Linked DNA regions of Homo sapiens. The protein of the gene in region 1 interacts with the protein of each later gene in a pairwise test. Each region holds a gene or a part of one and is shown on either strand. Other genes may lie near its edges.

What was found.
Region 2: the proteins of RBMS2 (region 1) and DIPK1B interact in a two-hybrid assay, tested with the Homo sapiens proteins (one large-scale study listed by BioGRID and IntAct).

What each region holds. Positions count from the first base shown.
Region 1 is NC_000012.12:56,570,236-56,574,038, forward strand, and holds part of RBMS2 (RNA-binding motif, single-stranded-interacting protein 2), read left to right. Parts: intron 1-1,462; coding exon 1,463-1,620; intron 1,621-2,554; coding exon of another isoform or gene 2,555-2,657; exon of another isoform or gene 2,658-3,803.
Region 2 is NC_000009.12:136,711,075-136,715,420, forward strand, and holds the start of DIPK1B (divergent protein kinase domain 1B), read left to right. Parts: upstream 1-1,497; 5' UTR 1,498-1,591; coding exon 1,592-1,654; intron 1,655-4,346.

The DNA.
Region 1 (3,803 bases):
GCCTCTTCCGGTACTCCTGCTGCTTCCCCGTGTTCCCTATATTATTCACCCTGGCCCCACTTCCCTACCAGACAGCTTGTGGTGGTTTTGCAACATTCTCTGAACAAGTCAATTGTGCAACTCAGAATTTCAGAACAATGCTCTCCACCTCCTAATGTTGTTCCCCATACGGGCTGGGTAGTGGGCTGGGGAGGCAGGAGGGAAGCCACATCAAGGGAGGAAACTGTCTCTTCTCAGATCTGTCTGAAACTGTTGTCTTCACCTAGACTACTAGAAATCTAGAAGCTTTTCTCTCACTTCTTCTGTTAGGTGGGATTGTCTCCTTGCCTTTCTATTTTATTTTATTTATTTATTTATTTTGAGACAGCGTCTCGCTCTGTCGCCCCGGCTGGAGTGCAGTGGCGCAATCTCGGCTCACTGCAAGCTGCACCTCCCGGCTTCACGCCATTCTCCTGCCTCAGCCTCCCAAGTAGCTGGGACTACAGGCACCCGCCATCACCTCCAGCTAATTTTTTGTATTTTTAGTAGAGACAGGGTTTCACCGTGTTAGCCAGGATGGTCTCGATCTCCTGACGTTGTGATCCGCCCACCTCAGCCTTCCAAAGTGCTGGGATTACAGGCATGAGCCACCACGCCTGGCTGTCCCTTTGCCTTTCTGAAGCTGTTATGAGTATTATACATAGAGCTTGTGAGGCAGGCCTGCTAGACACCTTTTCTGTAATGGTTAAAGAAAAGGAAAACAAAAGGAAAAGGCAGAAGAGGATTAAGGTTGCTGGTGACCACTGTTTAGGGCAGAGTGACTGCTTAAATTCTTAAAAATACAACTATTGGATGATATTGCCATTTTGCACATTCTGTCCCCTGGAAGGGCTCTCCTACCTCTTCTTCCAGGAGTAAAACCCTCTGACAAAAGCTCAAAGGTTTAGGAGCCTTCAGGGTCCTAGGAGACTGTAGCTTTCAGGGCTCCGTGGTGACACAGTGAACTCTGCATCTGGCTCTCTCCCTGTTCCCTTCTCCCCTCCTCCTGCTCTTCCTCCATCAGGGAGTGAACAGGCATTCCTACTTAGAGGATTCTGCGTGGCTGGAAGAGAAGTGGGGAGGGGCTGCTCAAAACAAGCCAGCCAAGGAGCAAGGCAGTCTGAGGGAATCCAGCCTCTGGGACCGGCTGCTGGGGGAGAGCGGGAATGCTGCTCTGCCTGTTTCTAAAAGAGACAGCCAAACACCATTTATGACTTGTATGATGGGCTTGTATAGTACTAGAAATATTAAATCTGCACTTCTCCCTCCTGGAACTCAATATACAACCCGTGGTAGTGGGACTGGGTGTTAACAAATAGAATAATCTTTGTTTATGTGGGACCCTTCCTATAGTCTCTTTTCTGAAATGTCATTTGTGGGGAGGGCTGAGGGTGGGAGAGGGATAAGAGATGTGAGCCTCATTTTCTCACTGTTATTTCCACAGCAACAGGAACAGGACCCCACAAATTTATACATCTCAAACCTCCCACTGTCAATGGATGAGCAGGAACTGGAGGGGATGCTGAAGCCCTTTGGCCAGGTTATCTCCACCCGTATCCTTCGAGATACCAGTGGGACCAGCAGAGGTGTTGGCTTTGCAAGGTGAGGATGGCAGGAGTGGGGAAATGATGAGGTTAATAACAAATGTCACTTGGGGGTCACCAGAAAACAAAATCTATGCCTTTCCCACACAAGGTCAAAATACTTTACTATTATTCAAAAATACTTGATGGTAAGTCAAAAGTTCATTTTAGGCCAGGTGCGGTGGCTTACACCTGTAATCCCAGCACTTTAGGAGGCCAAGGCAGGCATATCACCTGAGGTCAGGAGTTTGAGACCAGCCTGGCAAACATGGTGAAACCCCGTCTCTACTAAAAATACAAAAATTAGCCAGACGTGGTGGCGCATGCCTGTAATCCCAGCTACTCAGGAGGCTGAGGCAGGAGAATTGCTTGAACCTGGGAGGCAGAGGTTGCAGTGAGCTGAGATCGCACCACTGCACTGCAGCCTGGGGAACAGAGTGAGACTCTGTCTCAAAAAAAAAAAAAAAAAAAAGGTTCATTTTATTATAGGTTACAATACTCAAAAACCCATTAGCCCCACCTAAATATTTTTTTTATAAAGATGGGGTCTTGCTGTGTTGCCCAGGCTGCTCTTGAACATCTGGGCTCAAGTGATCCTCCTGCCTCAGCCACCTAAGCAGTTGGGATTACAGGCATGAGCCACCACACTCGGCTAAGCTCCCTACTACTTCCTAGGGAAGTACTCTAGGCTTTGTTCCTTTAATCCAGACCCAACCAGAGTAAAAAATTCTGTATATTCTTATAGTTTACTGAGTATTTCTCATCTTGTCTCATTTAATCTTTACAACATCCCTGTGAGATAAATATTCTCTATCTTACAGATGAGGAAAGTGAACTCTTCAGTAGAAATGATTTGCCCAGGGTCTTACAGGAGTGGGTGTTAGAGCAGAGCCCTGATCCTTCTGGCTTTGAGAGCAGTAGGATGAGGTAGAAGTTTTGATCTTCCTTTTCAGATCTGTTGGGAGACCTGTATTCCAGAACAATTCTGCACCTGTGATATCAGAGCTTGTGAGCCTTGGTTCACTCTCTGAAGTGGAGATTGATTCAGATGAGTAATTTTCCCACAGTATTCCCTATACCTGCAGTTTTCCCAGGTGCCCTTCTTTGGGCTTTGGTATCTGCCCTCACTGTCGTAGGGTATCAGCCTCCCTTAGCCCACTTAAGAAATGGCTCTGCTTTTATTTATTTTAAGATTTTATTTGAAAGGAGATTCTTTTGACTTTTTTTTTTTTTTTTAGTTTCAAAATGACTGGACTAAGTGAGCCAAGCACCCCTTTTTGCTTTATATCTTGTCTGGTCCGTGAACACCCCCTTACTCTGAGTGTTTCAGACCTTGGGAACAAGAAATAGTTTCTCTTGGCTGGGCGTGGTGGCTCACGCCTGTAATCCCAGCACTTTGGGAGGCTGAGGCGGGTGGATCACCTGAGGTCAGGAGTTTGAGACCAGCCTGGCCAACCTGGTGAAACCCCGTCTCTACTAAAAATACAAAAATTAGCTGGGTATGGTGGCGGGCTCCTGTAGTCCCAGCTACTCGGGAGGCTGAGGCAGGAGAATCACTTGAACCCGGGAGGCGGAGGTTGCAGTAAGCCGAGATCGCGCCATTGCATTCCAGCCTGGGCAGCAAAGCGAGACGCCATCTCAAAAAAAAAAAAAAAAAAAAAAAAAAGAAGAAGAAGAAAAGAAATAGTTCCTCTTCCCCAGCTGACTCAAGCTTAGTAGCACCACCTGCTGGCAATCCCGTGTATATCTAAAGGAGAGTTCCTAGGCTTGGGACCATCGAACTTATTTTGCAGGTTGAGCAGAGGTTCTTAACCTTTCTCAGTTTGTGCCACCCTTAGTTATCTAATAGTTTTTCACCCTAGACCAAAAGAAATACCTAACAGTTCAATTTATTAAGTAACTGAATGGTCCACACTTTTTTTTTTTTTTTTTGAGACGGAGTCTCGCTCTGTCGCGTACCACAGGTGCGTACCACCACGCCTGGCTAATTTTTGTATTTTTGTTGTTGTTGTTGTTGTTGTTGAGACGAAGTCTCACTCTGTTGCCCAGGCTGGAGTGCAATGGCACAATCTTGGCTCACTGCAACCTCTGCCTCCCGGGTTCAAGTGATTCTCCTGCCTCAGCCTCCTGAGTAACTGGGATTACAGGCGCCCGCCACCATGCCCAGCTAATTTTTGTATTTTTAGTAAAGATGTGGTTTCA
Region 2 (4,346 bases), on another chromosome or scaffold:
CAGCTACTTGGGAGGCTGAGGCAGGAGAATCTCTTGAACCTGGGTGGCGGAGGTTGCAGTGAGCTGAGATCGCGCCACTGAACTCCAGCCTGGGCTACAAGAGTGAAACTCCGTCAAAAAAAAAAAAAAAAAAAAGGAAAAGAAAAGAAAGAAACTGTTAAGAGAATGAAAAGAAAGCCACAGACTGGGAGAAAAATCTTTGCAAATCACATGTGTAATAATGGGCAGATATCCAGAAGATATAAAGAAGTCTCGGACCAGGCATGGTGACTCACGCCTGTAATCCCAGCACTTTAGGAGGCTGAGGCAGGTGGATCACTTGAGGCCAGGAGTTTGAGACCACTCCGGCCTGGGCAACATAGCAAGACTCCCTCTCAAAAAAAAAAAAAAAAAAAAGTCTTGGCTGGGCACCAGGTGACTCATGCCTGTAATCCCAGCACTTTGGGAGGCCAAGGCAGGATGATCCCTTGAGCCCAGGAGTTCGAGACCAGCCTGGGCAAAACACTGAGACCCAGTCTCATTCTAGATATTAAAAATTAAAACCAAAATGTAAATAAGTCTCAAAACTTAATAATAAAGAAACAACGTGATTTTTATTAATGGTCAAAAACTTGAATAGACTTTGGAGAAGATACACAGGTGGTAACTGAACACGCAGAAAGTGTGTTAAACACGCGAACCACAGCCCCAGCGAGACGCCACCACCAGGGAAATGGCTAAAATGTAAAAACCTGCCGATAGCAAGAGCCGCCCGGGATGCGGAGCAGCTGGAAGCGCCGGCGGCCGCGGGGAGGGAGCGAGTCTTGGCAGCTGCTGGCTGCGCCCCACATCCCTCACCGTCCAACTCAGCCCCCCCAGGTGTTTACCGAAGTGCAATGAAAGCTTCTGTTCACACGGAACCTGCCTATGGAGGCGGCAACGGCTCATCCCCGAGCACCCCACGCGGAGGCGAAGGAAGTGTCCTCCCGGCGAGTGGCCAAGGCGCGGGGTCTCAGCCAGGAGGGAAGGGTCGGACCCCGGGGCGGGCTGCAGGCTCGGCCAGCCCAGGGCTCCGCGCGTCTGACCCCATCCTGAGGACCCAGGGGAAGGACCAGCCCTGGCTCTGCGGCCTCGAACCGGGGGCGCGCGTGGGGAGCCCTGAACCCCGCAGCCTGCGTAGCGCACGGGGCCTCTCTCCAGCGTGGGAAGAGCCCCCGAGACGCCCAGGAGCCCGACAGGCGCGCCCCCGGCCCCGGCTCCGCCTCCCGGCCCATCCCGCGCGCCCCCAGCCCCTCCCGCAGCACCGTTGCATGAGGGGCGGGGTCTGCGGGTGGGCGGGGCCTCGGTGCCCGCCCCCTCCTCAGCCGAGCCGGGGGTCGAAGGCGGGCCGCGCGCCAAGCCCCGCCCCCGCGCGCCTCCGCCGCGACCCTCCCCCGCGCGCCCCCGCCGCGCCGCCGTCGGCCGACAGAAAGGCGCGCGCCCTCGCCTTTAACGCGGGCCCGGGGGCGCGCGGCCCGCATGGCGAGGGAGCGGCGGCCGCTGCGGGCCGGGCCGGGCCGGGGCTGAGGCCGAGCGAGCCGCGGGGCCCGCGCAGCCCCGGCCGGAGCCCACCATGCGGCGGCTGCGGCGCCTGGCGCACCTGGTGCTCTTCTGCCCCTTCTCCAAGCGCCTGCAGGTAAGCGCGGTGCGCGCCCGCCGCCCCCGGCCGCCTCTGCCTGGGGAGGCCGAGCTCCAGCCCCGGAGTGGGCCGAGTACGGAGCGGGGCCCCGGGTTCGGACACGAAGGGTTCATGAGCCCGGGGTGGGCAGCGGGGAGGGGGCGAGTGGCTCCGGAAGGACGGGACGCTGGGGGAGGGGCGGTGGCGGCGACAGGAGGGTCCGGGCGCGGGGATGCTGCGGCCTGGAGGCCCTCGCCCCGACCTGCAGGCGGTCCCTGCCCCCCAGGCCCAGAAACCACACCGAAGTCCTTTCTTCTTTTCTCCACTTAAAAAATGAGGTGTGTTATTCTGCGGTAGAAAACTTGGGACGCACAGAAACGCCCTGGCAAGGACATGACCTCCCCGCCCCCTGCCCCTTCATCCCATCAGCCAGCCGTAGCGCGGGGACCCTGCCCTGACCCCGGGATGACCTTGAACCACCGTCCCCTCCAGGGGCCTGGCCGGGTCCGCAGGGGAGGCCCGGGCCGCCTTGGGTTCCAGCTGCCAGGAGCCCTTTCACCTTCTGCTTTGGGGAGATGCAGGCCAGGCCCATCAGGCTCCAATCATCCGGGGCCCGGCCTCGGATGGGATGCCCTCCCAGACCCTCCAGGACCCCAGCCATCTGCCGGAGGCGCCAGTCCTGGTCAGATTTGCCTGTATCTCCCCGGCCCCCGCAGGGTGGTCCTGGGTCAGCAGGAGGAACCCTGCCTGCGTCCTGCCTGAGCTCAGGGCCTGGCTGGCCTCAGCTCCCCTTCTGGGAAGAGCGTATGGAACCTGGCAACCCACAGATTGCAGCGAGACCCTCTGTGCCCACTTGGGGCTTCAGGTTGTGGTGGTCCCGGCTCAGCCTTGGGGCAGGGTGAGAGCTAAGGGGTCTGAGGACCACCCCAGTCGCTGGGAGGTGGGGTGCACAGTGGTCCCCTCCCCCGAGGAAAGGCCTCGACCAGCAGCTGCAGAAGAGATGCTGATGCTTGGAGCTCCGCCCAGGAATGGCAGCAGAGGGGTGTTGGCTGCTCCCAGGGTGGCTGGCTCGGGGCCAGAGCCCTGGTGGGAGCCCAGCCTGCCCCTCTAGTGGCGAGGGCCTCAGTTTCCTGGCCTTGTGAACTGCTTTTCTGGGTTAGTGCTGTGGGGCTCCTGGCCCACGGTCTGAGCCTGCTGGGCTGAGGACCACTGTGCTGTTCCCATCCCCTGGGTGACCTTCCCTATCCTCCAAGTGGCTACACCGGGAGCTGGTCCCCACCTGCCCCTGCAAAGCCCCAGCCCAGGTCCTGGATGGTGGGGCCACCTCCACACTCAAGCTTTGCCCGTCCATCTGTGCCAGGCCCGGGAGCCAGGGTGGGCCAGGGAGCACTGTGGGGGCCTTGCAGAGCAGCTGCTTGGGACCCCAGGATCCACAGCAGGGTCAGGGATGGCAGCTGGGGAAGATCAAGACCTAGGGGAGAGCTGGGCAAGGTGGCTCCTGCCTGTAATGCCAGGCCTTAATGGGAGGGTCACTTGAAGCTGGGAGTTCGAGGCTGCAGTGAGCTGTGACTGGACCACTGCACTCCAGCCTGGGCAACACAGCAAGACCCTGTCTCAAAAGAACAACAACAACGAAAGAGCTGGGGGATGAACCAGAGCTGGCCAGGCGGAAATAGGCCCTGGCCCAAGCCCAGTCGGGGCTCTGGGGAGCAGAACTGGGTAAGTCCCTAGCTTGGTGTCACTGTCCCCAGCTGGGGTCAGCCCTAGGCCCGAGGCCAGCTGCAGCCTCCCTCCTCCTGGCTGTCCTCCGAGGCCCCGCCCATGCTGGGCCTCCCTGCATGGCCCTGCCTTGGGCACGTTCACCCCAGACGGAGCCATCCGACCTTATCCTGCCAGAACAACACCCACCCCCCATTGTTTCTCTGCTTTCCTGTTTTTCATCTTGAGCAAGTCTGCCGGAAACAGATTCAGTGCCCAGGACAAGTGGTCTGAGGGGGCGGAGACCAACCTGGGCCTGGAGGGCTCCCCACACCGGAGCCACGCCCTCTGCTCCAGGACCCCCAGGACCCCACTGCTACTGGAGGTCTGGGCCCTTCCCCAGCTGCTGGGGGTCCTCCCTCTGTAGCCCTGCCTGGGGCGGCCATCCGTGAGTGGATGCCGGGGAAGCAGGAGACCAGGGCCCACCCATCCTGAAAGAACCAGAAAAAACGACCTCAGCTGCCTGGGCTGTGCCTTGTCCTCGTTGAGGAGCTGGTGGCCCCATTTTAGGGAGGAGTCCCCTGCTCACGGCCTAAGCCGGGCTGCAGCCCACGACCTCTGATGGGGGCTCTGGCTTGGGCAGGTGGGGGTGTGGCCAGGCGCTGCCGGGAGGAGGATGTGCCCAGGGCAGCCTCTCCCTGGCCGCAGGTGGACAGGAGGCCACAGGGAGTGCTTGGAGCCAGCAGTGGGGCCTCTCTGAGGGGAAGCTGGCCCCCAAGCCTGGGCCCTTCACCCTTCAGCTGCAGGTCAGGGATGTCTGAACCCCTGTGTAGGGCAAGTCCCCTCTGCTGGCCAGTGCCTGAGAGGCCTGAAATTTGCTAGGGGGCTGGGGAGAGGGAAGGTGGCATGCAGCTGTCCCTGGCTGTCACCCTTGGAAGCCCAGCTTGGAGGCCTGCACCCTAGAGCCGGTGCCTGAGCCTCCTCAGGCCGGTAGGGAAACCAAGGCAGAGGG